Homo sapiens: one gene and its partners. The protein of the gene in region 1 interacts with the protein of each later gene in a pairwise test. Each region holds a gene or a part of one and is shown on either strand. Other genes may lie near its edges.

Region 1 (10,549 bases):
GTCCTTTGCAGAGACATGGATGGAGCTGGAAACCATTATCCTCAGCAAACTAACACAGGAACAGAAAACCAAGCACTGTATGTTCTCACTTGTAAGTGGGATCTGAACAATGAGAACACATGGACACAGGGAGGGGAACAATAGACACTGGGGTCTGTCAGGGGGTGGGGGTAGGGAGAGCATTAGGAAAAATAGCTAATTCTTGCTGAGCTTAATACCTAGGTGATGGGTTGATAGGTGCAGCAAACCACCATGCCACATGTTTACCTGTGTAATAAAACTGCGCATTCTGCACATGTACCCCAGAACTTAAAATAAAAATAAAAATTAAAGATCAGCTAGCATTTATTGATACTTATTAAATTCTAAATGTAGTTATTTTACATAGGCTTTTACATATAACTAATTTAATCTTCAAAATAAATGTGTGAGTTTATACTATCATTATTGTCATTTTCAGATAAAGAAATTGAGGCAGCGAGAAATTATGTATCTTTCCCATTGTCACACAGTTAGGTTACAGGGTAAGCAGTACACCAGCCCAGTGATTCCTTCTCAGAGCTAATGCTCTTGCCCTCCTCACAATACCCACATTCACATAAATGAATATAGATTTATATTATAATTTTAATTGTTATGTAATAACTTATCTTTCAAGCTCTTGTTTTTAGACATATAGGAAGTTTTAACATTTTTGCTATTCCAAACCATGAATAGTCTCAAATATACAGTCTGGCACACTTATCATGTCCTGAAAGTAAAATTATTGTTTCAAAGGCTGTGCACGTTAAAAAATTGAAACTGTATCAGATTTCCTCACATTTTGGTTGCGTGCATTTACACAACCATTCATTTCTCCACATGTATGCCAGCATGAGCTATTATGAAAAACTAAGAGCCATTCTTGATTTAATTTTCATTTTATTACTATAAGGTTAAACATATTTTTTGTATGTATTTGCCATTTCAATTTCTTATTTATGATTGACCCATTCCTTTTCTTTGTCCTTGTTAGTACTATGGTGTTTAGTTCTTGTTTATTTATAATAAAATATAGAAATATGTAACTGTTAACTTTATTTATAATCTTTTCCTACTTAAATGTTTTACATTGTTAAGAATAATAGCCTCCAGCTCCATCCATGTTCCCACAAAAGAAATTATTTTATTATTTTTCGTTGTCGCATTGTATTCCATGATGTATATGTAGCTCATTTTCTTTATCCAATCTGTCGTTGATGGGTGTTTAGGTTGATTCCATGACTTTGCTATTGTGAATAGTGATGCAATGGACATTCACTTGCATATATCTTTACGGTAGAATGATCTATATTCCTCGGAGTATATACCCAGTAATGAGACTGCTGGGTCGAATGGTAACTCTGCTCTTAGCTCTTTGAGGAATCACCCTACTGCATTGCACAGTGGTTGAACTAATGGAGGAACGGAAAGCCAAATACCACATGTTCTCACTTATAAGTGGGAGCTAAATGATGAGGACTCATGAACACAAAGAAGGGAACGACAGTTACTGGGGTCTACTTGAGGGAGATGAACACAAGAAAATTATTGGGTACTGGGCTTAATATCTGGGTGATGAAATAATCTGTACAACAAACCCCCATGACATGAGTTTACCAATATAATCAACCTTCACATGAACCCACGAACCTAAAATAAAGGTTAAAAATAAATTTTAAAAAATGTTTTACGCTTTTATGTATTCAGTTTTCTTTATTATCACTTAGTTTTTTCAAACTTTGTCTTTAGTTATCTTTAGATGGGCCATCTCCACTCTAAGATCATATTAAAGTTTCTTTTAGTAAATTAGTGTTTTTATATACAAATGTTTCAGATGTCTGGAGCTAAATTGTTCAATATGGTAGCCATTATTTACATGTGCATGTTAAATTTAAATTAATTAAAATAAAATCTAAAATGTGGTTCCTCGGTCATATTAACCAAAGTTTAAGTGCTCAATAGCCACGTGTAGCTAGTGGCTATTATATTATATTTTATTTTCTCAGGGACTAGGTCTCCTTACGCTACCCAGGCTGGCCTTGAATTCCTGGGCTCAAGCAATCCTCTTGCCTGAGCTTCCCAAGTAGGCTGACTACAGGTTCACGCTACTGCATCAGGCTGATGGTTATTATTTTCGACAGTGCAGATATATACCGTTTTCATCATCAGATAAATTTATTTGAACAGTTTTTCTCAAATGTTAATATGTACCCCCAATCACCTAGGCATATGTTATAATGCAGATCCTTACTCGAATAATGTTATGGACTACATGTTTGTGTCCCCCCAAATTCATATGTTGAAACCCTAAATTCTCAAGTGATGGTATTTGGAGATGGGACCTTGAGGAGGTAATTAGGTCATGGGGTAGAGCCCTTATGATGGGATTAGTGACTTTATGAGAGCTAGCTCTCTCTCTCTCTCTCTCTCTCTCTCTCTCTCTCTCTCTCTCTCTCCCCCACCCCATATGAGGACGCCAGAAAGAGAGTCTTCACCAGAACCCAAGCATGTTGGCATTCTGAACTCAGACCTCCACTCTCTAGAACTGTGATAAATTAATTTCTGTTATTTAAGCCACCTAGTCTATGACATTTTGTTATAGCAGCCTGAACAGACTAAGACAGGCATTTTGGGGAAAGACCCAAATTGCGTATTTAATGAGCTGGTGCTGTAGGTTCTTAGACCACATTTTGTGTTGCAAGTGTCTAGATTTATTTTTATGTAAGGAACTGTGAAAATTCATTGTGTATGTGTACATTTCTCTGTTTTTCAATTTTATTATTTATTGATATGCAATGACATATTTATATGCTAAATATCTACAGTTGTATATATTTTCCCTGCACTTTCTAACCTCTTCTATAGATTCACAATCAAGTCTTGTGCCATACTACAATAAAATCAAAAAAGCTTTGCAGGATGTTTTAATATTTAGTCAAGCACATCTCTGCCAATAGCTTTTCAAGGCCTACCAAACAGTTTTATTTAAATTGGAATTTCATTCACTCTAGTGAATTTAGTAAGAAGTAATTATTTATTAAATTTATTCTTCCTATTCAAGAACAAGGAATTCCTATAATTTCCCATATCTTTTTTATGTCTCTGTTTTGAATTGAATCTTTGTGTCTGTCCCAAAATCCATACACTGGAGCTCTACTCCCCAGCGTGATGGTATTCGGAGGTGGGGCCTTTGGGAGGGAATACAGTTTAGAAGAGGTCAAAAGAGTGGGGCCCCTGTCATGGGATTAGTGTCCTTGTAAAGAGAGGAAGAGTCTCTCTGTCTCTCTACTCTCTCTTCTCTCTCTTCTCTCTCTCTGTCTCTCTCCCCCTCCCTCCTTCCCTCCCTCCCTCCCATGTGAGGACACACAGCCAGAAGGTACAATTTGCAAGCCAGCAAAGAATCCCTGACCAGAAGCCAAATCTGCCAGCACCTTGATCTTGGAGTATCCAAGCTCCAGAACTGTGAAAAATAAAATTCTGTTATTTAAGCCACTCAGTCGATTGTATCTTGTTTTCAAAGCCTGAGTTGACTAAAACAGTATCTTAGAAGAATCTTACTGTTTTCTCTAAATATGATCCTTATGTTCATATATTCAGTTGGTCTTCCTATGGAGCAATTTTATTATTTCTAGTAAGTTTCAAACTGGTTATTTTGCATTTTTAGTTAGAAAAACTATGGAGTCCCTTTGGAAATATTTTTCTTCCTCACTTACTTGGAGTTTAGTTTGGTTACTTGTATATTTAAATTTCCATTTATACTTTTATTTTAAAAAAAGACAATCTCATGTTCATTATATGGATACATTTGAATTTTCTACTTGTGCAGAATATGTCACCAGATGAGATATGTAGTCATGCATTCATTCAATAAATCCCTACCACTGGCTAGATGCAATCAGTAAGCTGGGGCCATGCGAACAGAAAGGAAGGGCTCCACTCTTAAGGACTCTTAGGCAAAAACATTTGAACAATGAAATAGGAATATTTGGTAGAGTATAAAAAATTCATGATTTTATTTTTAATTATACTGGATATTTCATAATACAGAGAGCAAGCATCCAGTTTGAATGTGGTAAATTAGGACAAACTATGAGAGTAAGACATACTTGACTTTTGAAAAGTATAGATATTGTTCATGCAAAGAAGAGAGATGGTTGGTTGGAGTGTGGGTGTGTGATTCACTAGAATATATGGATCCTTGTTTAGAAATATTTTTATCATTTTTAGTATAGCGATGAATACATTGATGGTATTTCTGAAATCTTTACTGGAAAATATCTGTTGGACAAAACAATGGAGGGATGTTTGGATCTATTCCTAAGTCTCTTGCCAGGGGAATATTTCATTTATTGTCAGTTTTCCCCCTTGGCACTGTAAAAGTAGTTTTTTGTGTGTATTATTAGACCATAAATCTTTTACTTTTTCTTTCTGTTTTAGCTACTGAGTATGCTGGATCTTGGAGCACCCATATCACCATTTGCTGCCCCACGACCCCTAAGTCATATGTGCAACTTCTGTCGACATCTACATTGTTATAGGCAAAAATCATGAGGAGCATATGGTTTTCATTCTACCAAGACTTTCATTTCACACTGTTACCAGAAGGGTTAGAAATCCTGATTGGATGGGAAGGAGATTAGCTTTTTCCTTAGTGGAATAATTTCATTTTAACAGAGGGGTCACCTTCCTAAGCTAAATGTGAAAAGAATGATAGAAAGAGTACAGATCATGGAAAAAAAAAAAAAACTAGAAAGGCTTTGTAGTAAATTTTGATATGACTTCAGAGAGTTCATCCTCACTTCATGTATTTGAATAAACCCTTTAAAATTTAGGTAACTAAATTATTCTATTTCAATTCTCACTTTTCTCATTTACGTCACTTTTATACAACAAGCACTTTCCACCATCTGGCTGATGTATAGAATAAGAAGCATTTTCAGGGCGCTGACTCGTCTGGTCTATCCAAGTTCACTGAAGGGACCTATTTAACCCCCAAAGCATCAAACTCTATTAATACAGTGTAACCAAAAGAGCTAAACTCTACCCTGACTAAAGAACTTTAAAAGAAATATCAAGTCATCAGGTATCTCAATGACTTGTTTCTTATTGACATCAATAAGATGTCTATTCAATAGAGTAGAAATAGAATAGAAACATCCATGTATTTTATAAAGATGCACAAGAAATAAACCAATACATGAGTATAATTTGAGCTTTTTAAATATCTCTATACCTTTATTCCCGATATGAGGATTTTTAACTTAAATTTTGTCCAACGCACTTTTCTCCAGATACTATTGAAATGAGTAGAGGTGCGTTCTGCATTTGGCTCTAAGATGATTTGCAAGAGTAAAGATGCTTTGCTGTTTCATTCAGTGAGACCTAAAGTAGTTCTGGGGTCCTTCTCAGCACGATCCTCAAAGGTTCTATAAACTCCTATACACTAATATGTCTCCAGAGAATATATTGCCCTGTCAGTGACATTGACACCTAGAATGAGGAAAGTGTGGGATTGAGAAAATGGGATTGGTAAAATGTGATGATTCTCAAGCCCTATTCTGTAATATAAAGAGAAAAAGAAAGAAAAAGAAAAAGGCAGGGAGGCAGGCAAGTAGGAAGGAAGGAAGGAAGTAAAGAAGGAAAAGAGGAAGGAAAGAAGGAAGGGAGAAAGGGAGGGAGGGATGAAGCAAGGAATGAAGGAAAGAAAGAAGAAACAAAACAAGGAAGGAAAGGGGAGGGAGGAGAGGGAGGAAGGAAGGAAGGAAAGAAAGAAAAAGATATATTTTCCTAAAGTTGAATATATGAAACTTAAAAGACCATCTATTGTTATAAATATGCTTTCTCTATTCTTCTAATATAAAGATTCCTTTTACTTTTTGAATTTTTGTGGTGAGGAAATGGCAGATTCTTCATTTTTTATGCTTGGCAACTGTATGTCAGCCTCTCCTCACTTTGTTTGGATTATTTTGGTGCATGAAATCAAGGGGACTGAGAACCACTGTACTGGCCAAAGATGAGGAGACCTGCAGTCAGCCCAGGGACCTTGGGTCTTAATCCTAATGAGGCAATTAAGTAAGTCAGAAACAAGTAAGTCTGTTTACTTATCTTGGTAGTATTTTTCTTACATATAGAAATGGGCTTTACACTAGAGCTTATTCAAGCTCTCCATAGTTCAAAATATAGACCCCCAGACTGGCAAAATTATCAGTCATGATAAAGTGTTTCCGTTTTCTAAAATGTCTGTCAATAATTTTTTTTTTGTAAAGAACTTTTTCCACCTTTGGTCATGTGCTGAAAGACAACATCTATGAGAACACTTCACTACCAAAATAATGGCACATTAGTAAACCTCTTGATCACAGTGTGGTGGCTGTTACTAGTTTATAAGTGGTGCTTGAGGCACTTTTCAGCAATGTGCTAAGTATTTAGAACCTTCATAAGGCAGAGAGAGAGAGAGAGAGAGGGAAAGGGAGAGCATTGGGATAGGGGGAAGAGAATATGAGAGAGGTCTGGCCTCTTCTCTTCCCCGTTTGTATTTCTCCTCCTTTTCATCTATCTAATCTTGCAGAATCCTTCTTAAAATTAAACAGATGTCCTGTTCTAACCAAAAGCTAGATACACAAAGACCAAGAAATAAGTGATGAGCTTCAGGAATGCACTTCAGGACATGTAAAATAGAAAAGCTTTATAGTAATGTAATGTGTTGATTTTATTTTTCCCCAGATACTTACAAGTTAAAGAAATATAATTTAAGAAAATTACAGCACAGTCTCAGGTGACATTTAAGAATTAGACAGGTGAACTTGTTTATTTTTGTGGTCTGTCAATGCATTAAAAACTAAATTCAGAAAACTATTTTCTAAGACTTTGGTTATGAATATAGACGTTAAAAAACACTCTTGGGAAAACCAACCTGCAAGTGAAGGTCATTTACAGTGAGTTACTGAAAAAGAATGTGAGGGGAAAAATCTATAGGTCACTATCAAGTAATAAGCACATCCCCTCCCATCAAAATTGCTTTTTAAGCTCATATCCATCAGAAACATATTATATATTATTCCTTTTATCATAGTGCAAAATTAATAGATTAAAACATGTACATTTTAGTTTTTACTGAGGAGGAGCCAGTATGAGAAAAACTTTGAGCTTAATAAATACAAATACACACAAACACACATATATAAGTTGTGGTATATAATGTGATATATATGTATATATTCAGTAGAGTATTAAGAACAGAATGAGGAGAGTCTTTGGGAAATATCAGAAATAGAATGACTTTAATTTTAACAATGAGTCTATAGGAATTAATGACATACATATCATAATTATTTTGCATCTTATTTTAGTTAAAAAAATGTGCAGTCCGAGTAAGACCTTTGTTCCACACACGTGTGTGCTGTGCATATTCTTTCTAAGTGGACTAGTTTTGTTCTCATGCCATGGGAGCAGGTGGCATGAAGCTGTTTTGATGAGGTTAAAAGGCTCCTCCCCTCTCTCCCCAAGCAGCAGCCTGAAGTACGTCAGCAGTAATTGTGTGCATGGCTCGGCTGTGCAGGGAGGGTGGAGGCAAAATTGATATCAAATAAGGGTATCAAACTGAGATCTAGATGTTCCATTTAAGTTGTTGTTCATTTTCATTAGCCACGCCAGGGGTGAAATGCTTATAACTTAACCATTCTCTGTAGTAAGAACATTTGTTTTCAATGGATTTATATTTTTCCTCTCCATAAAGACTGAATTAGTGCTATAGTGAATATAAATGAAGGGTGTTTCTTTACCCTCTTTTCCTTTTATTATTTACTAATCAGACTTCAGCTCAGTTAGATAAAAGAGAGAGGTTCTGTTGCCTAGATGTGAGGCCTTTAATGAGGATGGGAGCCCCCAGGGAGCCGAAATCCAAAGTAGAACGATGCCGCTTTCCGGTTTCTTGCAATTTCTTCAGTTGCTTCTCCCTTTTCCAATGGGCCTAGTGAGCAGGAACTATCCAAGGTGCTAGAACGCTGGCAGCCTTGCCGTTCAATGCAGACGGATTGCAGAAACAGAGAAGAAAGATTACTGCTTATTTCAGAAGGTAGGTTCTTTGTTTCAGAATCCCTGATTAATCAGCAGCAGCTTCAACAGACTAAGGCAGCTGGAGAGGAGAAAGAGAAGCAGGAAGGGAGGGAGTCAGGGGCAGGGAGGGAGGGAGGGAGTGGAGGGAGAGAGAATGAGAGAGAGAGAGCTGGTTGTCACGGGGGAGGGACTATGCCACAAGCTGGGCTGCTCCAAACCTTCTGTATGTAAGTGGCAATGAGAAAGAGCATCTTTTTGGCTGAAAGGAGACATTTAGAAAGGATGTTTCTGATTTTTTGTTTTCATTTATTTTTGTCTTCGCAGAATATAATCAAATGAGGTACATTAGCCAGCTTGGTGATTGCTTCTGGTCCTGTAATCATCTGTGTAGCAAAGTGGGTAAAATCATTCAATTTCTTCCCTGCTGGACCTGGAAGGAGAGGGGCTGTGTGTTCATCCCCACCCATTAGCTATGCCCTCTTTTCTCCGAATGTCGATTTAAGGAAGCAAGCACCTGTCTTCCGCCACTGCATCTTCCTAGCAAACTTTAAAGGCCATTTTATCTGATAGGAAGGACATCGAGAATGCTCTGATCTAGTGATGAAGAATCTGGGAGTCGACACTTTTCCCATCCAGACACAATGCACTTTAATTGAAGAAACACTGAGCTGAACTACAAGTCTATTTCTTATGGTGCTGGATTACTCCTACAGAACTGCCCTGAGATCAACCGTGAGAGAGGGCTCTGACAGACACAAGTCACCTTCTGGTTATTGCACTTAGCTCTCCCTGGGGACTTAAATTTTGGTATGTATCTCATTTTTCAGATTCTCTAAGCATGCTAATCGAATCCAGCACTGAATAGATCAAGCAATCTGGTGATAAAATGGAATGGATTTTAGTTAGGGATACTTAATGCTGAAGTTTGCATGCCTTATTAGGTGGAGCAGAAATAAAGCCACAGTGAAGGCATCCAGGGCTTTAGTGAGCCTGAGGCTATTTTTACTCCCTTACCCACTTAGTTACATTACCATGGAAATGGTTAAACTAGATTTTCATTAGTAAAATAAGCCATGTTGAATTATTAAAGCTTTGAAAATGTTTTCCAGGGTATTAATTGGCATTCAAGTTGTGCATGCTAGCTATTTATCCGCTATTCCATACCATAAATATTTTACAACTGTCTCTTAGCACATTTATGTCAGCAGTGAGAGCCCAATTTTACATTCTCAGGAGAAAAGACACAGTATCCCCCAAAATTCAAAACTACCAGACAAACAGCAAAGCCGACACTGCTTCTTCCTGACTGATTAGACATAAACCTCTTTGAGAAACATTTTTTAATACTATTCAATGTCAGAAAGATTTTATTAGTCTCATCACAATAAATATTTTCTGTAAAACTTTAGGTGGACTTGTTTTACTTGGGACATGTTCTTATTTTGTTGGGGTGTCTCCATCCTAATTTTTCCAACTACTCAGCAATATTTTAAATACAAGACATGTGAGTATTTCATATCTGGAAAAACTATTACATAAAATAATATTTTTCACTATCATTGGGAAATACTAAAGTTCTTTTGGTACCATAGAATTGGATTTTTTTTTCTAAATATAGCCGAAAAATAATGAAATTCTGAAAAGCTTACATGATGTAGTTTTAGTCATTTTAACATCCAAGCATTTATAACCAAGTAGTGTGGAATAACAAATATAGAGAAAGAGTGAAAATTAACTCTCTTCCTAATTCTTCACATTTTAGACAATGTTCTCATTTATTTTATATATTGTCAAGCACTAATTACACAAATTAATGAGAAAATGTGGTCCACAAATGCAGAAATTATTTTGTTTTCCTATGGAAAGTGCAACATACATGAGCCAACTCAGCAAAGAAAGGGACTATGTGAAGGACATAGACAGTTTAGAGAATTAGTGGAAACAGACCAGAGGAAAATATTACAACTGCACAAGGGACAGTGGAGAAGCCTGAGGACTTGAAGCATCTGTCAAGTTTAGAAAGAGAAGTGTAAAAATCCTAGACACAAGAAGGTTGGTTATTGTTTAAAAAAATAAATAAATTATAGACTCCCAATTCAATTAGATGGTTCCCACTGTAGCTCCAGTCAGCAATTTATTAGACTGACTACATCTACTTTGCAAATAATGCCTTGTAAGCATCTGGAACCATTTGGCCCAAGCCTCCAAAAAGTATCTCAGCCACTGGCATTTTGCATGAGTCTCCAATATTAATGGAAATGTACAATCTCTTTACACCATGGGCAAACAGCACCATGACAACCTGGAAGATGAGGGGGAGATACCAATTCATGATGCTACTGCATTAACACGATTTATGCCTATCTTACTCATTTTGGGAAGAGAGATAGTGGAGAAAAACTCACTGCAAAGTAATCTGCTTTCTGAGAAAAAAGCAATCAGTGTCTTTGTAGTCACTTTAGCAAGCTTTCTT
Region 2 (10,833 bases), on another chromosome or scaffold:
TGTATCCCAAATTCGTATCTCAGTTGACCTAACATACTTCCAATGTAGATGTAACAATGTCAGGTTACACTTCAAGTTCGCAGGAACTTGAAGGTAATGGGTGAAGTAGCCAGTCAGGATAAAATGTCTTAACAATTGCCTCCAGGTTTTCCTAGGAAGCCCTGAAGATTTCTTTTTAAAATATTATTATTATTTTTTTAGAGTTAGGTTATCTCTATGTTGCCTGGGCTGGTCTTGAACTCCTGGCCTCAGGCGATCCTCCTCCCTCAGTCTCCCAGAGTGCTGGGGGATTACAGGTGTGAACCACCCACAGTGCAGCCAAAAAATAAAAAATTTTTAAAAGAAAAAAACCCGCCAGGCACAGTGGCTCACGCCTGTAATCCCAGCACTTTGGGAGGCTGAGGCAGGCGGATCACCTGAGGTCGGGAGTTCAAGACCAGCCTGACCAACATGAAGAAACCCTGTCTCTACTAAAAATACAAAATTAGCCGGGCATGGTGGCACATGCCTATAATCTCAGCTACTCGGGAAGCTGAGGCAGGAGAATCGCTTGAACCCAGGAGGCAGAGGTTGCAGTGAGAAACTCTGTCAAGAAAGAAAGAAAAAGAGAGAAAGAGAAAGAAAGAAAGGGAGAGGGAGAGGGGCAGGAAGAAATAAAGAAAAGAAAGGGAAGGAAAGAAAGGAAAGAAAGAAAGAAAGAAACCATTGCCCCAGAGTGTGGGTGTGGAAGGCATGACTGAAGTCCCATACTCATGTCTTTGAGCCAATAGACTGTGCATACATCACACAGAGCTCAGACTGCTCTAAGCTATCTTTCCTTCTCAACCTTATAGGAATTCAAGGCCAGCCTGGGCAACATAGCAAGACTCCATCTATTTTTTAAAAATTAATTTTTTTAAGGAGTTCCTAGGAAAACCCAGGGGCAATTGTTAAGACATTTTATTCCTGACTCGCTGCCTCACCCATTATCTTCAAGTTCCTGTGAAGATACAAACTTGTGATACAAAGAATAATACATAGCCAATTAATATCTTACACTGTGCCTGGCCCAGCTGCTCAATGCTTATTTGTTAATTGAAGAAAAATATGGTCCCATGAGCCTAAGAAGTTCTTACCACGAGGTAAGAGTCCATTGCTTTTACTCACACTGTTAAATCTCAGTGTCTAGACACAGTAGGTGCTCAGTACATTATTATTCATGAGAAAGGGAAGGAAGATAGAGTCCCTGCCCTCAAGCTGAAGGCATGTGGCTTTCTGAGGCAGTAGGAGAAAAAAAAGCAAAATGAGCTCAAAACTCCGTAACAGTTCACCAATTAACTGAGGCAGGCTGCAGGCTCAGCAAAGGCTTTATTTTTTTTCTAATTTTTTTTTTCAACCAGAATGCTCAAGGATCAAGCAAAGGCTTTAAGTGGGTCATGTGCTATGAGCTGAGTCTTAAAGAAAGAGTAATTAGATTGCTGGAAAAAAAGGAGACAGGAAAAAAATGTTACACCAAGCAGGAGTTACCTGAGTAAAAGAGGAAGGCTAGGGCATATAGGGAACAGAGAGCAACCTTCTTGATTCGAGGGGAAGCAGAGTTAAACTGGGTTACCAAGGGCCTGGAAAGTAGAACAGAACGAGACCAGCCTGGGCAACATGGTGAAACCCCGTCTCTACTAAAAATACAAAAATTAGCCGGGCTTGGTGGCACATGCCTGTAATCCCAGCTACTTGGGAGGCTGAGGCAGGAGAATTGCTTGAACCTGGGAGAAGGAGGTTGCAGTGAGCAGAGATTGTGCCACTGCACTCCAGCCTGGAACAACAAGAGCGAAACTCCATCTGAAAAAATAATAATAATAATAAATTCATGGAATACTGTTTCAGTTAAAATTTATACAAACAAGCCAGGTACGATGGCTCACGCCTATAATCCTAGCACTCTGGGAGGCTGAGGCGGGTGGATCACCTGAGGTCAGGAGTTCAAGACCAGCCTGGCCAACATGGCGAAACCCTGTCTCTACTAAAAATACAAAAAAAAAAAAAAAATTAGCTGGGCTTGGTGGCACACGCCTATGATCCCAGCTATTTGGGAGGCTGAGGTGTGAGAATCGCTTGAACCTGGGAGGTGGAGGTTGCAGTGAGCTGAGATCGTACCCCTGCACTCCAGCCTAGGCGACAGAACAAGAATCCGTCTCAAAAAAAAATGTATGCAAACACTACCTTCAAAAGTGTAGAATGTACATCCAGGCTTGGTGGCTCACACCTGTAATCCTAGGGGAGACCAAGGCGGGTGGATCACAAGGTCAGGAGTTTGAGACCAGCCTGTCCAACATGGTGAAACCTCGTCTCTACTACAAAAAATTAGCCAGGCATGGTGGCAGGCGCCTGTAATCCCAGGTACTACGGAGGCTGGGGCAGGCGAGTCGCTTGAACCTGGGAGGTGGAGGTTGCAGTGAGCTGAGATCGTGCCATTGCACTCCAGCCTAGGCAACAGGGCCAGACTCCGTTTCAAAAAAAAAGTGTAAAATGTAATGGTTGGAAGCATGGGCTTGGAAATCAGAGACATTTGAGTTTGAATCCAGTCTCCATGATGATCAGTTGTTTTAGACAAGTTATATAACCTCTCTAAGCCTCAGTTCCTTAATCTATAAAATGGGAATAATCATCCCCATGATTACTGAATCAAGAATCAATATAATGTTATGTAAAGCACTTAGCATATGAAGCATGACTCTCTAATAGGAAAAATAAAAATAAAGCACTTAGCATAGTGTTTTGTACATAAAGAGCACTCAACATATGGTAGCTTTTTGAAAAAAAATCACTGCTGATGTTACTGTTGATGTTGTTTTTGTTTTTATGCTTAAAGTCACCAGCAGACTAGAGGTATGGGCTTTCACGAATCATGGCCAGTCACATAGTCACCAATATTTCATAATCATTCTTTCTTGAATCAAATTATTGCCACTGCTAACTAGAAATACCAAATTGAAAGCACTATTGTTTAATTATATGTATGGGAATGTCTTAAACATTTTTGGCCAGACAAACCATTCTAAACAAAAGTCGTACAGAAGGTTAAATTGCCCCTTTCAGTTATAATACATGCACTTCCTTTTCCTATCTAGACCTCAATAATCAACTGATGCCTGGCTCTTGTGGCCCAGGGTCTGTAGCCACATAGATAATCTTTTGGTATCATTCATCTCATTTAGCCCATAAGCTTCAAATTATGGTAAAGGAAAGGTCCCAGATTTAGAGTTCTCCCTGGAATTCTGAGTTTTTTCTCCACAGAAACCCCTCAGAGTCTTTTATTTTATCTAAAAAAATTTTTTGGCCAGGCACAGTGGCTCACGCCTGTAATCCCAGCACTTTGGGAGGCCGAAGCGGGTGGATCACGAGGTCAGGAGTTCGAGACCAGCCTGGTCAAGATGGTGAAACCCTGTCTCTACTAAAAATACAAAAATTAGCCGGCTCTGTCACTCAGGCTGGAGTGCAGTTGTGCAATCTCAGCTCACCGCAACCTCCGCCTCCCGGGTTCAAGCGATTCTCCTGCCTCAGCCTCCTGAGTAGCTGGGACTACAGGCGCGGGCCACCACATCCGGCTAATTTTTGTATTTTTCAGTAGAGACGGGGTTTCACCATGTTGGCCAGGATGGTCTCGATCTGTTGACCTCATGATCCGCCCACCTCGGCCTCCCAAAGTGCTGGGATTACAGGCATGAGCCACCACACCCGGCCTAGACATTGTTTTAAATGCATTACATGGATTAACTCATGGAACCAGCTTTATAGTATCCTGTGATGTTGGAAACCCAGACCCAGGGAGGTAAAGGTAATGTGCCCATGGTCATTCAGCTGGTAAATGGCAGAGCCGGATCCAAATCCAGGCAGACTGTTTCCATGCTCTTAACACTATGTTGATTCTTATTAAATATCCCTATGAAATATGTCTCATATTTACCCCCTTTCTTTCATCTCCACTGATGCTACATGAAACTTCCAGGATGTGTTAGTTGCATTATTACAATAACTTCTGAGTTTGTTACTTTGCTTCCAATCTCTCACTGGTCATCTCTGAGTGTCACTGTCAGATTAATTTTCATAAAATACTGCTTGTAGTGTGTCATTCCCCTGGCCAAGAAACTACATTTTATTTATTTATTTATTTATTTATTTATTTATTTATTTATTTATTTATGTTTTGAGACAGGGTCTCTGTTAACCAGGCTCAAGCAGTTCTCTTGCCTTAACCTCCCGAGTGCTGGCACCACAGGCACTTGTCACCACACTCAGCTAATTATAAAGGCCATAAGAGTAACAATCATGGCTTTTCAAGCCTGACAGAACCTAGCATCATGCTGTACTCACATTGTTTAAGAAATAAACATATGGATACACAGATTGATGTGAGTGGTATTTGGGAAGATTTGCTCCAATCTTGGCACTATATTTTATTTATTTATTTATTTATCTAGTGAACCAGAAATAAAATTATAAGCCCCCCAATCAAATGAATGGCCTCCTCTTCTGGGCCAAGGGCATTCCTAAATTAACCTGAAAAACTATTTGAGGCCATGATGAGAAGTGGGAGTCAGACATGCCTCATTATTTTCTCCTGCTTTTGGAATTCAGGACCAGCATTTAACATTAAAGCAGAGATCTTAAGGTTGACACAGCAGACTCTTTGTAGCAATGATACCAACATTGACAGATAGCAGGCCCCATCTGTCATGATAGCAGGCAAAGGTGTCTTTTATGGTGAAAATCTACATTCTGTAGAAAATCCCCTTCCCTTTCCAGGTCTTTTTCCTGATCCAGGGGAGAACTAACTAAGAGTCTGATACCTTTCTAAATCTGATAATAAACACTGGCCAGCCTTGGTGGCTCACACGTGTAATCCTAGCACTTTGGGAGGCAGAGATGGGAGGATCACTTGAGCCCAGGAGTTCAATACCAGCCTGGGCAACATGACAAAACACCATCTCTACAAAAAATACAAAAATAAGCCAGGCATAGTGGAATGAACCAGTAGTCTCAGCTACTTAGGAGGCTGAGGTGGGAGGATAACTTGAGCCTGGGAGGTCAAGGCTGCAGTAAGCCGTGATCCAGCTACTGCACTCCAGACTGGGTGACAGAGGGAGACCCTGTCTCAAAACAAAAAAAAAAATAAAGAAACATTTACAATCTATGCTCTCTGGAGCCTGCTACCTGTAGCCTTCTCTGCATAATAAAAACCTTGATTTCCACAATTCCTTGTGTGTGTGTGTGTGTGTGTGTGTGTGTGTGTGTGCGTGCATATCTTAGTAACAATTCCTTAACTTAACCCAGACATTCCCTTCTGTGGGTTCCAGGTCTTTAAACTCTTTCAACCAATTGTCAATCAGGACATCTTTGAATCCACCTACATCCTGGAACTTGCCACCCCCACCCCCACTTTCGGGACCAAGCCAATGTATATTTTACATGTATTGATTGATGTCTTACGTCTCCCTAAAATGTATAAAATCAAGTGGTGTCCCGACTATTTTGGACACACATTCTTAGGACCTTCTAAGGCTGTGTCACGGGCATGTCCTTAACATTGGCAAAATAAACTCCTAAATTGATTGAGACCTGTCTCAGATACTTTTTGGTTTGCAATTTATTTATTTGAGACAGGGTCTTGCTAGGTCGCCCAGGCTGGGGTACAGTGGCAGAATCATGGCTTATTGCAGCCTCAACCTCCTGGGCTCAAGGGATCCTCCCACCTCAGCCTCCTGAGTAGCTGTGACTACAGGCACCCACCACTAGGCTGGGTAATTTTTTTCTTCTGTAGATACGGAGTCTCCCTGCGTTGCCCAGGCTGATCTAGAACTCTTGGGCTCAAGCCTCCCGCACTCCTGAGCTCAAGCCGCGGCCTCCCGAAGTGCTGGGATTACAGATGTGAGCCACTGCGCCTGGCCAGGTACTATATTTTAAACAAAAAGGATCTAGATAATGACAAGGACAGCACAAATTCCTATAATGAATGCAAAAGTGTCTTGATATCACAATGTCTAGCACAGAGTTATTGGAGGCTATCCTGCCTAGCGCGTTACAATTTACAAAGCTGCCTCTCTGAAGCTGGATTTAGGATCTGCCTTAAACTCCGCGGCGGGGCCCTTGACAGCAGTGGGGACTGGAGCAAGATCAGAGCCGCTCGCGTTGATGGTCACTGTTGCTTCGGGCGCAGGTTTGGTTTTCTTTGGGGTTGCCATTTCAACTAGACGGCCTCTGGGTAGGCCAGATCTGGATCCTCTGTCTTTATCTGCGTTGCAGAGGTGGGACCACCCCTCTTTCACATAGTCAGCCCGGGTTCGCAAACACTCGGCCCCGCACAAAGATGGCGTGGAGCCGGGCTGGGCCAATGCGGAGTGGCGTTGCTCCCGGTTGCCTAGGTAACAGCCAATGGGCAGCGGGAATTGTACCCAGTGCGGTCGCCCAGGATGGCGGCGTCAAGTGGGGCAATCGCTGGTGGAGGTGGCGGAGAGCAAGGTGGCAGCCGGGAGCCCATCAGAGGAAAAGTCCGAGGCGCTGGAACCCTGCGTCCAGGCGTGACGGTCATCCCGAAAGGCCGGCCCCAGGTTGGCTGGAGGCGCAGGAGGGAGGGGGCCGGGAAAGAGTGTGATCGGTCAGGTGGGCACTGAGGAACGGAGCACGAGATGACCCGGCTCGGGGGCGCGGCTCCACCTCGGATACGCTGACCTGAGGGCGGTTGCCTGTGGGGGACCCAAACCTGAACCCTTTAGTCTCCACCGCGGGGGTCGAGGCCCGGGAGAGCTGACTGGACTGGGGTTAGCGAGCAGAGGGTGGAGGGTTGCATCAGGGGAATTGGCAGACCTGTGTGAGCGTTAGACCCTGCCGGGCGGGAGAGCGGGCCCGGATAGCAGGAAGGAACGCGCCTGGAAGGTGAAAATGGGGTGCGAGAAGGTGTTGCCTTGTTGTGGTCTAGGGCTTTGTTTTCCCTGAGCCCGCCTTTATCTCACTGGTGGAGAGAACTCCCACATATGGAAGCCTGGGGAATGGGATGCTTCATTTAGTTGATGGGTGGTATCCCTGCATTCTAGCATCTCTGAACTGCTTAGGTACCAGCAGGAATAACTGCTATATCGGAGTCCAGCCCTGGCATTCCCTTTCCCGTGAAATAGGATAGTATTCTGGCAGTATTACTCCCTAGTCCCAATCACCCCCAGGTCATCATCGCCTTTAAATAAAAAAAAAAAAAAATCTTTTTGGCGCCAGTATTTTCTTCCCACTTTCTTCAATCTAACCATCCCACAGTCTTCCCTAAACGAACCCTTCATATAGCAACGATACATTTCTTTACTTTTCACATGAGGAAAGAGGAGGTTAGACTTATAATGAAAAACAGTTATTTCGAGCTCCTTTTAAAACACTTAAAAAAAAATATTTAGGCCGGGCGCGGTGGCTCACGCCTGTAATCCCAACACTTTGGGAGGCCGAGGCGGGTGGATCACGAAGTCAGGAGTTCAAAACTAGCTTGGCCAAGATGGTGAAACCTCGTCTCTACTAAAAATACAAAAATTAGCCAAGCATGGTGGCACGTGCCTGTAATCCCAACTACCCAGGAGGCTGAGGCAGGAGAATTGCTTGAACCTGGGAGGCGGCGGTTGCAGTGAGCCAAGATCCTGCCACTGCACTCCAGCATGGGGGACAGAGCAAGACTCCGTCTCAAAAAAAAAAAAAAAAAAAAAAAAGGGGAGTATTATTTGACTTTTTGTTCTAGGTTCCTAACAAGGCTAATCTTTGTTCATCAAAGCCTTCATTTTCTTCTCTTTAGGATTCTAAAAGCTTATGAACTGCTTTCTTTATTACTGAAATAATTTGACAAGACTATTGTACCCTGGGAAGGGTGGTTCTGGGGGGACATGTGGGTAGTTAGGGTGGCTGCCTCCACCCAGTATTCTCTAACTGGATCTCCCCCACCGCCCCAACCTTTTGTTTTGTTTTGCTTTTCTTTTCTTTTTTTTGAGACAAGGTCTGGCTCTGTTGCCCAGGCTGGAGTACAGGTGTGGTGCAGTCACTGCTCACCCCGGCAGCCTCAAATTGTGGGCTCAAGCAATCCTCCTACCTCAGCCTCCTGAGTAGCTGGGACTACAGGCATGCACCACCACACCCAGCAAATTTTTGTATTGTTTTGTAGAGATGAGGTCTCACTACGTTTCCCAGCTTGGTATTGAACTCCTGGGCTCAAGCGATCCTCTTGCTTCAGCCTCCCAACGTGCTGGGATTACAGGAGTGAGCCATCATGCCTGGCCCTTTTTCCTCTTTATGTCAGTTTTTTTTTTTTTAATCCTCTTAAATTGGACACAGTTTACTGTGAATACAAAAATGTTGTTTAATACGTTGATTTCTTAAAATTAGAAAACGATAAAAAGAACGGAAACAAAAATTCTCGTTATTGCCTCAGAGTTCTGTTTGGAAATAAGAAAATAATAATAATTAAAAAGAAATGTCTGGGACAAAAGAAAATGAAGATACCAGGAATATGGTATATAGTGCAGACTAATAGTGTGTTGGTTTACAGGGACAGAATAGTAATTTTCTTTTATGTAAATGTTTGGACTGATCCTTTGCAACCCATCTATCAGGAGTGCAGAAAGGGTGAGTGTCTGTTTAGAAGTGTGAATCATCTTGGTTTGTGACTGGATTCCATGGGTGTATCTGTAGCCTAAACTCCTGAGCCATATATTCTCTTTAAAAATATGATTTGGATAACTGATAGAAATACTGATTTGCATCCCTTATTAAAGTATTGGGCCAGACATGGTGGCTCCCACCTGTAATCCTAGCACTTTGGAAGGCTGAAGCAGGCAGATCACTTGATCCCAGGAGTTCAAGACCAGCATGGGCAACGTGGTAAAACCCTGTCTCTACCAAAAAATGCAAAAATTAGCTGGGTGTCGTGGCATGCTCCTGTAGTCCCAGCTACTCAGGAGGCTAAGGTGGGAGGATGGCTTGGGCCCAGGAGGCAGAGGTTGCAGTGGCTGAGATGACGCCACTGCACTCCAGCTTGGATGACAGAGCCAGACTGCCTCAAAAAAAAAAAAGTATTGGGCTTTCAGTCTTCATCGGCACTGACTATACTTTGTTAAACTAGGTTTGTCTCAATGACCATGGTTACTGGTGAAATTCCTTTTTAGGTCAGTAGCTGTAAAGCTATTCATTAGCATGGTTAATTATAAAAGTCATAAAATCCAGACACTGTCCCAAATAGTGACAATATCAACTATTTGGGCACATGTGACAGTTTCTAGCCAAATGTATTCAACCATGGCCTGAGACTCATGGATTCTACACACATTCCCTTTCATTAGCACTTCTGACTGTGGTCTTGGCAATGGACATCATTTTGGCAAGCATTTGCTGAAGGGAATTTGCTATATGTGCCTAAGTCAAAATGGAATGGAAGTTTGTAGTATGTACTGTTGAAAACCAATGGGAGAGGATGGTGGGAGGGTTAGGTTGAAACATGGTATTCCAGTTATTATTGCTGTATAACAAAGTACCCCAGAATTTAGCAGCTTAAAACACCCATACTGTGGCCAGGCGCGGTGGCTCATGCCTGTAATCCCAGCACTTTGGGAGGTTGAGGAGGGCGGATCATGAGATCAGGAGATCAAGACCATCCTGGCTAACACAGTGAAACCTCATCTCTACTAAAAATACAAAAAATTAGCCGGGGCCGGGCACAGTGGCTCATGCCTGTAATCCCAGCACTTCGGGAGGCTGAGGCAGGCGGATCACAAGGTCAGGAGATCGAGACCATCCTGGCTAACATGGTGAAACCCCGTCTCCACTAAAAATACAAAAAAAAATTAGCTGGGCATGGTGGCGGGCGCCTGTAGTCCCAGCTACTGGGGAGGCTGAGGCAGGAGAATGGCGAGAACCTGGGAGGCAGAGCTTGCAGTAAGCTGAGATCGTGCCACTGAACTCCAGCCTGGGAGACAGCAAGACTCCGTCTCAAAAAAAAAAAAAAAAAAATTAGCTGGGCGTGGTGGCGAGCACCTGTAGTCCCAGCTACTCAGGAAGCTAAGGCAGGAGAATTGCTTGAACCCGGGAGGCGGAGCTTGCAGTGAGCCGAGATCACACCACTGTACTCCACCCAGCGTGACAAAGCGAGACTCTGTCTCAAAAAACAAAACAAACAAACAAAAAAAAAACACCCATATGATGCTCATGGATTCTGTGGGTGAGGGAATTTGGACCTGGCACCATGGGGAGGCCTCTCTCTGCTCCCTGATATGGGATGGAATGCAGGCTCAATGGCTGAGGGCTGGAATCATCTGAAGGCTCCTTCACTGATGCCTGGTACGTGGGATAGGATGATTCAAAGGTAAGGGCAGCCAACTGGAACACCAATATATGGCTTTTCTGTGTGGCTTGGCTTTCAGTGTTAGCCTCTGTGTAGTCAGGCTTTTTATGTGGTGGCTCGGGTCTCCAAGTGTGAGTGTATCAGTGACAAGATGGAAGTTGCATCACCTTTTATGATCTAACCTCAGAACACACCACCATTTTCTTTTGAGACAGAGTTTCACTCTTGTTGCCCAGGCTGGAGTGCAATGGCGCGATCTTGGCTCACTTCAACCTCCGCCTCCTGGGTTAAGCAATTCTCCTGCCTCAGCCTCCCAAGTAGCTGGGATTACAGGCATGGGCCACCACACCCAGCTAATTTTGTATTTTTAGTAGAGATGGGGTTTCTCCATGTTGGTCAGGCTGGTCTTGAACTTCCGACCTCAGGTGATCCGTCCGCCTCGGCCTCCCAAAATGCTAGGATTACAGGCATGAGCCACCACGCCCGGCCCACACCAT
Region 3 (10,230 bases), 2.1 Mb from region 1:
CTCATTTATTTTTCCTTCTACTATGGTTGATACCATCTTTTGACGTTTTGCCTTGGAGTAGTTTTTAGTTAAATACTAGGTCATGGTTTAACTGAAATGTCTTTTTCCAGAGCCTTTCCAAGCATTCAGAATCCTTAGTTTTCCATATATAGTTCAGAAAGTCATTGATTGCCAATTTCTTCTCATCCTGATATTCTTGTTAATTTTAAAAAAAATTAGGTGAAAATTTTATCCTGAACAGTTTGATACGACTGATGGAACCATTAATGGCAAATGATAATTATTCACATATGCCAGTCTGGTTCATTAGCATTGTTTTGTAGGGAAACTTTTTCTTTTGTAGATAATTTAGTGTGACTTAAAAGCCAGAAGCCTTTAGTCTTCATGTGAGCATTCAGGCTGAGGTATAGTATTTGTGGATGTGTGTTGCTGGGTGGGGTCATTATTGGGTTCAGAAAAAGTCATCTTCTACAGAAAGACGCATGAAGCTAGAAATAAAATTCACCTACTGAATTTGGTTATTTTGCCTGATGATAAACATCATATCCCAAAACCTGTGCACTGTAAACTGTAATTGATTTTTGTCACATTCTATACTGTAGGATCTAAACCCAACTGCCTTGCAACTCAGGTAACACAAATGAGTAGTATAATGTTGTGTTTAAAGAACTATGGTGCCCTTTTTAAAGGGGATGTTCTAATCTGTTACCACATGGAAATAGGGGTTTAGGATACTAGATATATTGATTTTTTTTTTTTAATAAGAGAAGCTAGAAGTCTTTTTGTTTATTGTGAAGTGCCCTCTTTTTAAATGTTGGGAATTCATGGGAAATAATGTTAAATACTATACAGATGAAACAAAGCATATCTGTCAGATGAATTTGCTGAGGGCTGCTAGTTTGCGTCCTATGATCTATCTTCCTGTCTCATGAATATGTGTTTTTCTTTGAAGAGGAATGACAACTATTAGCAAGACTCAGGCTCATTAATTTGGGGTCTTAAGTTCCACACTAAGTTGACTCCTTTGTACTTTTTGAAATACGATTATTCAAGAAACAGCTTTACCATTGTGTTACATTCTGCTTAGCTTGGATTTCTTTGTACAGAGATTGCCTGAGTGTCCAGACAGTAATTTTTGTATTACTGAATTTATTAGTGTTGAATTTGCAAAGTTGTGTTTTCCAAAGTTTCATTCTGCAGCACTTATAATCGATTGTTGAAGATAGTGAATAGATCAGTACCTAGAAGTAAAAATGGATACAAGTACTACAAAGTCCTGTCTTGCCTATTTAATAGGTATTCTATTAATGTTTGGGGCTCTGAATTATATGCTATAATTTCTATGCTAGCATTCATTGTTTCTTAAATTTTAATGAGTTTAAAATTGCAGGCTTCTAATAGAATATGAATATCTTCAATTTATTTGGTGATCTTGTCCTTTTTTTAAATTTTTATATATGACCATGGTGAGACATTTGTAAACTTAAAAAAAGCTCTATTAATTAAACCATTTTTGTATTATTATTTTAAGTATTTCAGTTATTATTCAGATTCACATAGTTGATTACCATTTTTAATCAGTGAATTTTTCCAGGATGTTTTCTACATCTTTGTCTGCTTTCCTATAACTCAGTACTGTAACTCAGTACTCTGAAATAGTTTCCTTTGTTAATAGAGTCACTTTTATAGTACTGTGCTTGAGGTCATATACAGAGTATTGTGTCCAAATTTATCATTGCACAAAGTGTTTTTGGAAATTCTTGGTTACTCCTTAGTAAATTACCTGTAATTGGGTTACATGCTGGTAGGGTTTAAAATCTGATTGCTAAGTGAATTCTCTATAAAGTGAGTTTTGATACATAGAAACTTTTCATATAATTCTTAAACTCATGTGTCATGTATTTTCATTTATAGTTTTCATATTCATTAACATATGTTGTTCCTTACCATTTACAGCTCAGAATTCTGCAAATGCAGATTTTGCAAACTTTGATGCATTTGGACAGTCTAGTGGTTCGAGTAATTTTGGAGGTTTCCCCACAGCAAGTCACTCTCCTTTTCAGCCCCAAACTACAGGTAGAGCTTCTCCAGCATTGTGCTTAAATGTTTACTTTACAAAACAAAACTCTCTAAATGTAGTTTTGAAAAATTAGTCTAAACTTAAATTCTGTAATTATCTGACTTTAAAATGGTTCTATCTTCAAAAGCTCTGGGGAAACCTGAACTCTTTATTTTTTTCTATGTTCATTTGTTTTTCTGCATTATTTGGTATATTGTCTGTTTGACAACATCCATTCTCCTCCTTTTCCTGCGCATGAATCTTCCTTATATCTACCATGCACACAGGACAGAGGCATGACACTACTATAAGTATTTCTCTCTCTCTGTCTCTTTTTTTTTTTTTTTGGCAATCCTCCTGCCTCAGGATGGAATACAGGCACATGCCACCACTCCCAGCTAAATTTTTTTTTTTTTTTTGGTAGCAGCTGGGTCTCACTATGTTGCCCAGGCTGGTCTTGAACTCCTGGCCTCAAGTTATCCTCCTGCCTTGACCTCCCACAGTGCTGGGATTACAGGTGTGAGCCACTGTGCCCAGCCAGTACTATAAGTTTTTTAAGGTTCATAGAATCCATTGATTTAGGCTGACATTATACCTCTTAATAAAGGAAGCTGGTTGCTTCTGTAGAGCTAAAAATGTAAGTAATTTTCGGGGCAACAAGCCTGAGAAAAATTTTTATATGTTTATTAGACAAGAGTAGATTAATGATCACTTCAGTCAAACTTGGAAATAGTTTTCTGTGCAGGAATTGGTGTTTAAACATTGAATACTCTTTCCATAAATTGTGCTGTTTTCGTAAACTCATGGAACCCTTATTTAGATTTTTGGCTGATTACTTTTCTTTCAACTTTTAACTCTGTGTATTGTCTTAAAGCCTTTTCTTTCAATTTTCTTTTTTGTTTTTTCTTTAACTTTCATCATTTACATAATTTCTGGCTGTCCAGCATTTAGAATGCTTTCATCTAGCTGCAGTTTTGGTGAATTTACTTCAGCTTTTCCTCTTCAGGCTACCCACAGTAAGTTCTGTTGTCAAGTAGGCATCTTATACTAATTTGTATATTTTTGCTATACTTCAAGGGTTTTTCCAGTTATAGATTGTTAATAATTCTTTAGTGATAATCCTTCATAAAAATCTCTTCCAACTCTATTTATTAAACTCAGAGTTAGAGAACACAATAGTAGACAATCAAAGAGTTACTTGGTTTAATAATAATTTGAAATAATATTCTTTATATAAATTTTGAAAGTTTAGTATGTACTTTGTTTGCCAGCTCCTTGTAACAGGTCACAATATTTTACATACAAACATATATTACTTACCTTTAATTGAAACCACCATGATTTAACTCTTGAAAGAAATTTGATCAGTGTATATTTTTTTTAGAATGTATAAAAACCTGCTTGATAGAAAGTGTTCGTGTTTTTTTAATAGAAGTTCATGCATTCTGTTTTAAAATTATCTGTAGTTGTCTTTTCTATCACTTTAATATATAACTGTGTATATATACTGTTTTGATTTCTGAAACTAAAGTTTAGAAATAAAGAACTAATATCCCAAAAATGTAGGATCAAAAGCATAGAATGAAATATACTGGTTTTAGTCTTTTGATAGTACTTTAAGGAGGTCTCTATAATAGAGAACAGATTTTAAAGATGTAACAGGATATATATAATAGTGGCCATTAGGTGAATTGTGGTTTATAAAGTCAAAAATTGCTATAATGTATTATGTACTGTAATTTTAATGCCTTGAACTATATGGTACGGCATGATTTTACAGTGGACATCTTGATATTGTATACACATTAAACTATTATGTGGAATTAAATAGTAGCTCTTCAAGTGAAGTAAGTATAAATGTCAACGACCATCTTTTAAGGAATTTTGGATCACCGTAACACATTTTACACATTGTTAATCGCTACCCCTGGGATTGTTTAAACTGTTTCGTCATGGAGCCACAAAAGTTTGAAATCCTCCTAGTAAGATACTTTGCATCTTGTTTGCAGTCTGTTCAGGGAGAACTAGTGAAAGGCTGTAGTATATTTGGACTAGAAAGTAACTGAATCTCAAACCAGGTAGTGTGGAGATACCCCTCCATGAATTACATTCTTCATTCCAGGGTAGGTAATACACAGAAACATGTTACTTTACCTGTTGCCAAGGCCTTTGAAAAATCTACTTTTACAAAATTGGAAAACGTCACTTGTAGTCAAAAGCCATTGCCAGTCATTGATTTTAATGTTGTAAGATTGCTTATAGGACATTTAATTTAGGAAGAAATGATCATACAGTCTATGAGAGGGTACTAGGAAAAGCTTAGAAATTTCAAGTGCTCTGTTTATTCTGTTACAGGTGGAAGTGCTGCATCAGTAAATGCTAATTTTGCTCATTTTGATAACTTCCCCAAATCCTCCAGTGCTGATTTTGGAACCTTCAATACTTCCCAGAGTCATCAAACAGCATCAGCTGTTAGTAAAGTTTCAACGAACAAAGCTGGTTTACAGACTGCAGACAAATATGCAGCACTTGCTAATTTAGACAATATCTTCAGTGCCGGGCAAGGTATCAAGCTTTAAGCAAAACAAATACAAATTTGTGTTAAACAGTGCTCTTAATTTGGTTGTATTTATTAAAATCTGAACATGCTACACTTTTCTCAGTTGTTGTATAGAAATTTTGTCTGCACTGTCATTTTGAGTAAAATGTTCACTTGACACATTTTAGACCTGAAATATCAACTACAAAACTGAAGACATAGGGACTGATTTGTAAACTTTCAGTCTTACTAGTTGAGAAAAATTTTATTTTGTCCTAGAAGGCGTGCTTTACTTTTCTTTGGCTATAAAGAGCCAAGAAACCCCATTGGCAGAGCTGAATGGAGGATTATTTGGTGGTTTCTGTAATATATTTACTTCGAACAATTTTCCGTTAACATCTTGGTGGGTTTTTTATATTTAAAAAAAAAAATTCATGAATTTTACAGTATAGTCTTGTATCCAGTTTTATCTTAAGGCTAGTAGCCTCTACAAATGCATGTGGCACTGGTGAATAGCAGGTGTGTGTTGCTAAATGGAATTCTCCATTCTGATCTCTGGGCCTGTTTTCCTCCTCTCCAAAATGAGGATAATTCTAAGCATTAAACTCATGGAGTTGTGTTCTAAGTATTATTGCATGTTAAGGCATATAGAACAGTGCCTAGCACATAGTAAGTCCTCAATAAATGTTTCCCGTTATTACCATCTCTAATTTTTTTGTGGAGAATGCTGGGGAAATGATGCTATTGATAGACTGTTCACATTAGGTCTAGCATTATATGAATTTATATGTTCATGTGAACAAGATCCACCCGTCTTGGAGATGTTAACGTAAGAGCACTTGAGAGTTTCTTTCTTATGCATAATCCAGACAAATTTTTTTGGTACAGAGTGTTAATTTTTGTTAAGAGACATATTCTGTCTTTATCACAGTGGTATGTATAACAACTAATCCTGTCCAGTATGGTCCAGGTTATTTATTAGATTAATGATTTGGAATCCTGCTTAACTCTAAATCCATTTTAAGTTTACCTGTGTTTCATGGCAAATGTGGTTGATAAGTTGAAAGTGTAACTTTAAATTTTTGGTGTAACTTGATTTTGTTCGTTCCCAGGTGGTGATCAGGGAAGTGGCTTTGGGACCACAGGTAAAGCTCCTGTTGGTTCTGTGGTTTCAGTTCCCAGTCAGTCAAGTGCATCTTCAGACAAGTATGCAGCTCTGGCAGAACTAGACAGCGTTTTCAGTTCTGCAGCCACCTCCAGTAATGCGTATACTTCCACAAGTAATGCTAGCAGGTACCTTGTCTTAGCTAGCCCTCCTGCTTTGTGTTTTATCTTTTTTTTCCAACTTTGAATAATCAATTAAAAAATGACTGTTTCAAGGTATAATTTTAAAATTCTTGGATATTTTTGTAAATTTGAGGAATTTGAATTTAAATGCTAATTAAAATATAATCCTTGAATAATTGCCATAATTTTATCTTTTCATTGAATCAGACGTTTTGTTATGTTCTGTCCTTGAACACTAAACCGTATTTGAGAGCATGTACACATCTCAAAATGGACAGTTCCTTACAGATTGTACTCAGCAGAGAATCCATTTAGTAGTCAAATAATATACTTTAAAAATAGTTTTTAGTCATGATGATTAAACAGTGAAAGTCCCATATTATAGGCTTAGTTGTAAATACAGATTTTTAGAAGTGTTTGCACCAAAGCCCAAAATCAATTCTGTATCTCTTCAGTGTCATCCTCATATTTACAAATAAGCACATCTGCTGTTATGTTCATATATATCTGTTAGAATTCTTGGCAGTAGGAAGTCTAACACATTTTAGGACATTACACTTGTAAAAAACTTTTCTAGTCTTTATTTTAGAGTTGCGGAAATAGTCTCAGAAATACAAGAGATTTACCTATAACAATGTTTTATTCATCTCTGTTTTCCAATCCTGTGGATTGTATTTACTAATTTCTTTAGTTATCCTGGTAGCTTATTTTCCTTTAGCATCTTTTCTAGAAAGAAATGTTAGGATTGTAACACTTCCGGAAACATAAAGTCTGGAAACATACTTTATATATAATACATGATTTATTGATATTACATTACAGTACATCAGGGGTTCACAAACTGTGGTCCATGGAATGTTTGGGGTACCTGAGACCCTTTCATGGGGTCTGTGAGGTTAAAACTTTCTTTATAATAATTCTGAGAGATTGTTTACCTTTTCATTAATTGATATTTGCATTGATGGTGTGAAAACAATGGCAAGTAAAACTTGCTGGTGTCTTTTTATTTTTTTTTAATACTTTAAGTTCTAGGGTACATGTGCACAACGTGCAGGTTTGTTACATAGGTATACATGTGCCATGTTGGTTTGCTGCACCCATCAACTCATCATTTACATTAGGTATTTCTCCTAATGCTATCCCTCCCCCAGCCCCCCACCCCCGACAGGCCCCCAAGTGTGATGTTTCCCACCCTGTGTCCATGTGTTGTTCTTGTTGTTCAACTCACACCTATGAGTGAAAACATGCAGTGTTTGGTTTTCTGTCCTTGTGATATAGTTTGCTTAGAATAATGGTTTTTGCTGGTGTTTTAACATGAATATTAAGATAGTGGCACCAAACTGTACTAGTCGTTACAATAGTCATATTCCTTCCCACTACACATTCAGTTTTACTTGTATTTTTTATTTTTTTATGATGATTCTTAATGAAGCAGTAACAATTGTTTATTTTATTACATCTTTACACTTAAATGTCTTAATTTTCTTTGTGTTGATACTGATGCTGTGATACACGATATGTTCATTATTTTATGGCTACCCTGTAAATCGTTACTTTCTTTTTTTTTTAAGAAAAAAAATGAACTCTTTCAATATTTGTTCTCAGCAATGTTTTTGGAACAGTGCCAGTGGTTGCTTCTGCACAGACACAGCCTGCTTCATCAAGTGTGCCTGCTCCATTTGGAGGTATGTGCTTCTGGTATATACACTGGTTTTTACAAAGAACCCAAATATATATTGTGTAGCATTTTCTTAGGAGTCAAAGCAATGATTTGTTATCAGAATCCTTGAGTTTTCTGTCTTGATAAATATAGTGAAATAATTTAAATCTTAAATACAAAATGTATTAGGATTTTATAGTGTATTTTATAATTTTTTAAAGCTACGCCTTCCACAAATCCATTTGTTGCTGCTGCTGGTCCTTCTGTGGCATCTTCTACAAACCCATTTCAGACCAATGCCAGAGGAGCAACAGGTAAGAAAAAGAGACAGTGGAACAGTAAGTTTTGGGGAAGACATTTATCAACAAAGACACCATGTGAAGAACACCAGAAAATGGGGCCTCTTTCTTAGTGAAGTGAATGGCAATGGATAGAAGAGTTTGTCCATAAAGACAAATTCTAGCTGAAAGTTCATAAAATCCTGGAATTTAACAGTTGAGAGGGACCTTAGAAATTATCTAGTGTCTGCCCTTTCCAGTTAAAGCTTTCATTTTTCAGGTAGGGAAGCCCAGACATGGAGATGAGACTCCACAGAACGTTTATGACAGAGATAGGACTTGAACAGAGCAATTTAGATGTATTTGGTGGTCTGGTTTCAGAATTACTGGTTGTCACTCATGCAGTCTTAATGGAACCATTTTATGAGAAGTTTTTATTTTCCCTATGAGATTGCATCAGATGACTTTACTACATGAATTCTTAATTATTAGGTCTTTTTCTAGTGAATATCTCTTTCAGGTGTTAACATTTTTTAAGTTGTGGAAACTTGATTCAGTCGTGGGTATAATACTGAATATTTTCTCTTTTGATAATTTTTTCCCTTAATTCTCTTTGTTGTCTCCATTTTATTTTTTGATTCATACTGTAAGCCATTCACATCTTTCTCATGTTATACCTCTGATTTTTGTCGTATTACCTTAAACACCAGAGATATTTGCCAGTATCTTGGAATGTCAGCAGGTGCATTTGGTATGGCTGGGTATCCATTAAATCTAGAGTTTGTATGCTTTGTTTTTGTGTATATGTCACAATAATTTAGAACTAAAGCCTAAACTCCAGTTATAGCAAATGTTGATATGAACTCTTGAGAGATTAGGTACTTGTAACATTTTAATCAAACCATTAAGAATTACTAGTTTTTAGTAAATCTCTTTGTCATTGACAAGATTAAGAATCACAGTATTAGGAGTTTGAGCTGTAACTATTTTCTTTTCACATAAATGTCTTCACTTATACTCTGTTGGTAAGTAGCATAATAGATGTTTGATAAGTATTGGAATTTCACACAAAATTTAACTTTAAAAAAAGTTTAATTCAAGTGTACCTAATGAATGATTGTTTTAAATTTCCATTTGTACAATTTATCAGGTGTGTGATATGTGCAGTGTTTCTGTTTCTTAGCATACTGTTTTGATTTTGTGGACTGAGTTTGTAAAATGTCTCATGATACAATGGGTTTTTGTACATTGCCTCATTTAATCCACTCAGCTGTCATCAAATAAATATTTTAATTGTGTGACAGCTGAGGGAACAGGCCCAGAAAAGTTAATTGAACATATTTTGAGTACAGCCAGCCAAACTTGTGTTCGAATTCTGATTTATAGTTACTTGCAGGTTGACCATAAGAAAGCCTTTTGAATTTTGTTCTTTTAATGAATGGGGTAAGAATGATAGGGGGATGTTCAAACATTTATTGTGATAAAGTTGTTCACAAGATGCTATTGAGATATTTATAGATATTATAACTTCACTTAAGAACTGATGAATGGAAACTCAAATTATGTTTTGACTGAGCCTAATCATGTTGACCTGACTTCTCTGAGCCTTCATGTTGTCCCTCTCTATAGAATGTGAACAATATTCTCTTGCTGGCAGGTTTGTTGTAAAATTAGATGATGCACATTTACCCTGTATGGTCTTTGCGTTACAGCATATGCTCAGTAAATCAGACCTATTATTTTCCTTTCATGATTGTACCTCTGAGTTGGTTCTATCATTAGAGTTAAGGGCCTTTTTTTGCTTATTTTATTTAGAGTATGCAAGTTTTGTAAAAGTTGAAGTTCTACATAGGATATAAAATAATATAAAATGTACAACGTATGTGCAGATGATATAAGATAATTCTAGTATTAAGTAACAAAAATTTATTAGAAAGGTAAAACGACAGTGTCCACAAATGTTTATTTCAAGGTAATACATTTTTTCCATTATAAGTCATTTTGAATTTATCACGTTGGTCACCTTTATTAGATTATTATTGAATTGACCAAATCACAAGCATTAACTGCATATGTTTCTATTGAAGCTGAAATATAAACAATACTTCGACAGATGCACTACGCTTAAGAATTTCCAGTGTTTTATACCATCAAAGTTAATATTATTTAAGAATTTTTTGTTGCCTTCAAATACATTAACACTGGCCAGGCACAGTGGCTCATGCCTGTAATCCCAGCACTTTGGGAGGCCAAGGCGGGTGGATCACCTGAGGCCAAGAGTTTGAGACCAGCCTGGCCAACATGGTAAGACCCTGTCTCTACTAAAAATGCAAAAATTAGCCAGGTGCGGTGGTACGTGCCTGTAGTCCCAGCTACTTGGGAGGCTGAGGCAGGAGAATCGCTTGAA

Evidence for each region.
Region 2: the proteins of NYAP2 (region 1) and MORN4 interact in binary tests that used the Homo sapiens proteins (3 or more experiments, as listed by UniProt).
Region 3: the proteins of NYAP2 (region 1) and AGFG1 interact in binary tests that used the Homo sapiens proteins (3 or more experiments, as listed by UniProt).

What each region holds. Positions count from the first base shown.
Region 1 is NC_000002.12:225,392,161-225,402,709, forward strand, and holds the start of NYAP2 (neuronal tyrosine-phosphorylated phosphoinositide-3-kinase adapter 2), read left to right. Parts: upstream 1-7,549; 5' UTR 7,550-8,095; intron 8,096-8,263; exon of another isoform or gene 8,264-8,400; 5' UTR 8,401-8,883; intron 8,884-10,549.
Region 2 is NC_000010.11:97,629,098-97,639,930, reverse strand, and holds the start of MORN4 (MORN repeat-containing protein 4), read left to right. Parts: upstream 1-6,430; 5' UTR 6,431-6,584; intron 6,585-10,833. UniProt on the Homo sapiens protein: Plays a role in promoting axonal degeneration following neuronal injury by toxic insult or trauma.
Region 3 is NC_000002.12:227,529,135-227,539,364, forward strand, and holds part of AGFG1 (arf-GAP domain and FG repeat-containing protein 1), read left to right. Parts: intron 1-1,956; coding exon 1,957-2,076; intron 2,077-3,003; coding exon of another isoform or gene 3,004-3,075; intron 3,076-4,414; coding exon 4,415-4,624; intron 4,625-5,710; coding exon 5,711-5,891; intron 5,892-7,490; coding exon 7,491-7,570; intron 7,571-7,766; coding exon 7,767-7,859; intron 7,860-10,230. UniProt on the Homo sapiens protein: Required for vesicle docking or fusion during acrosome biogenesis. May play a role in RNA trafficking or localization.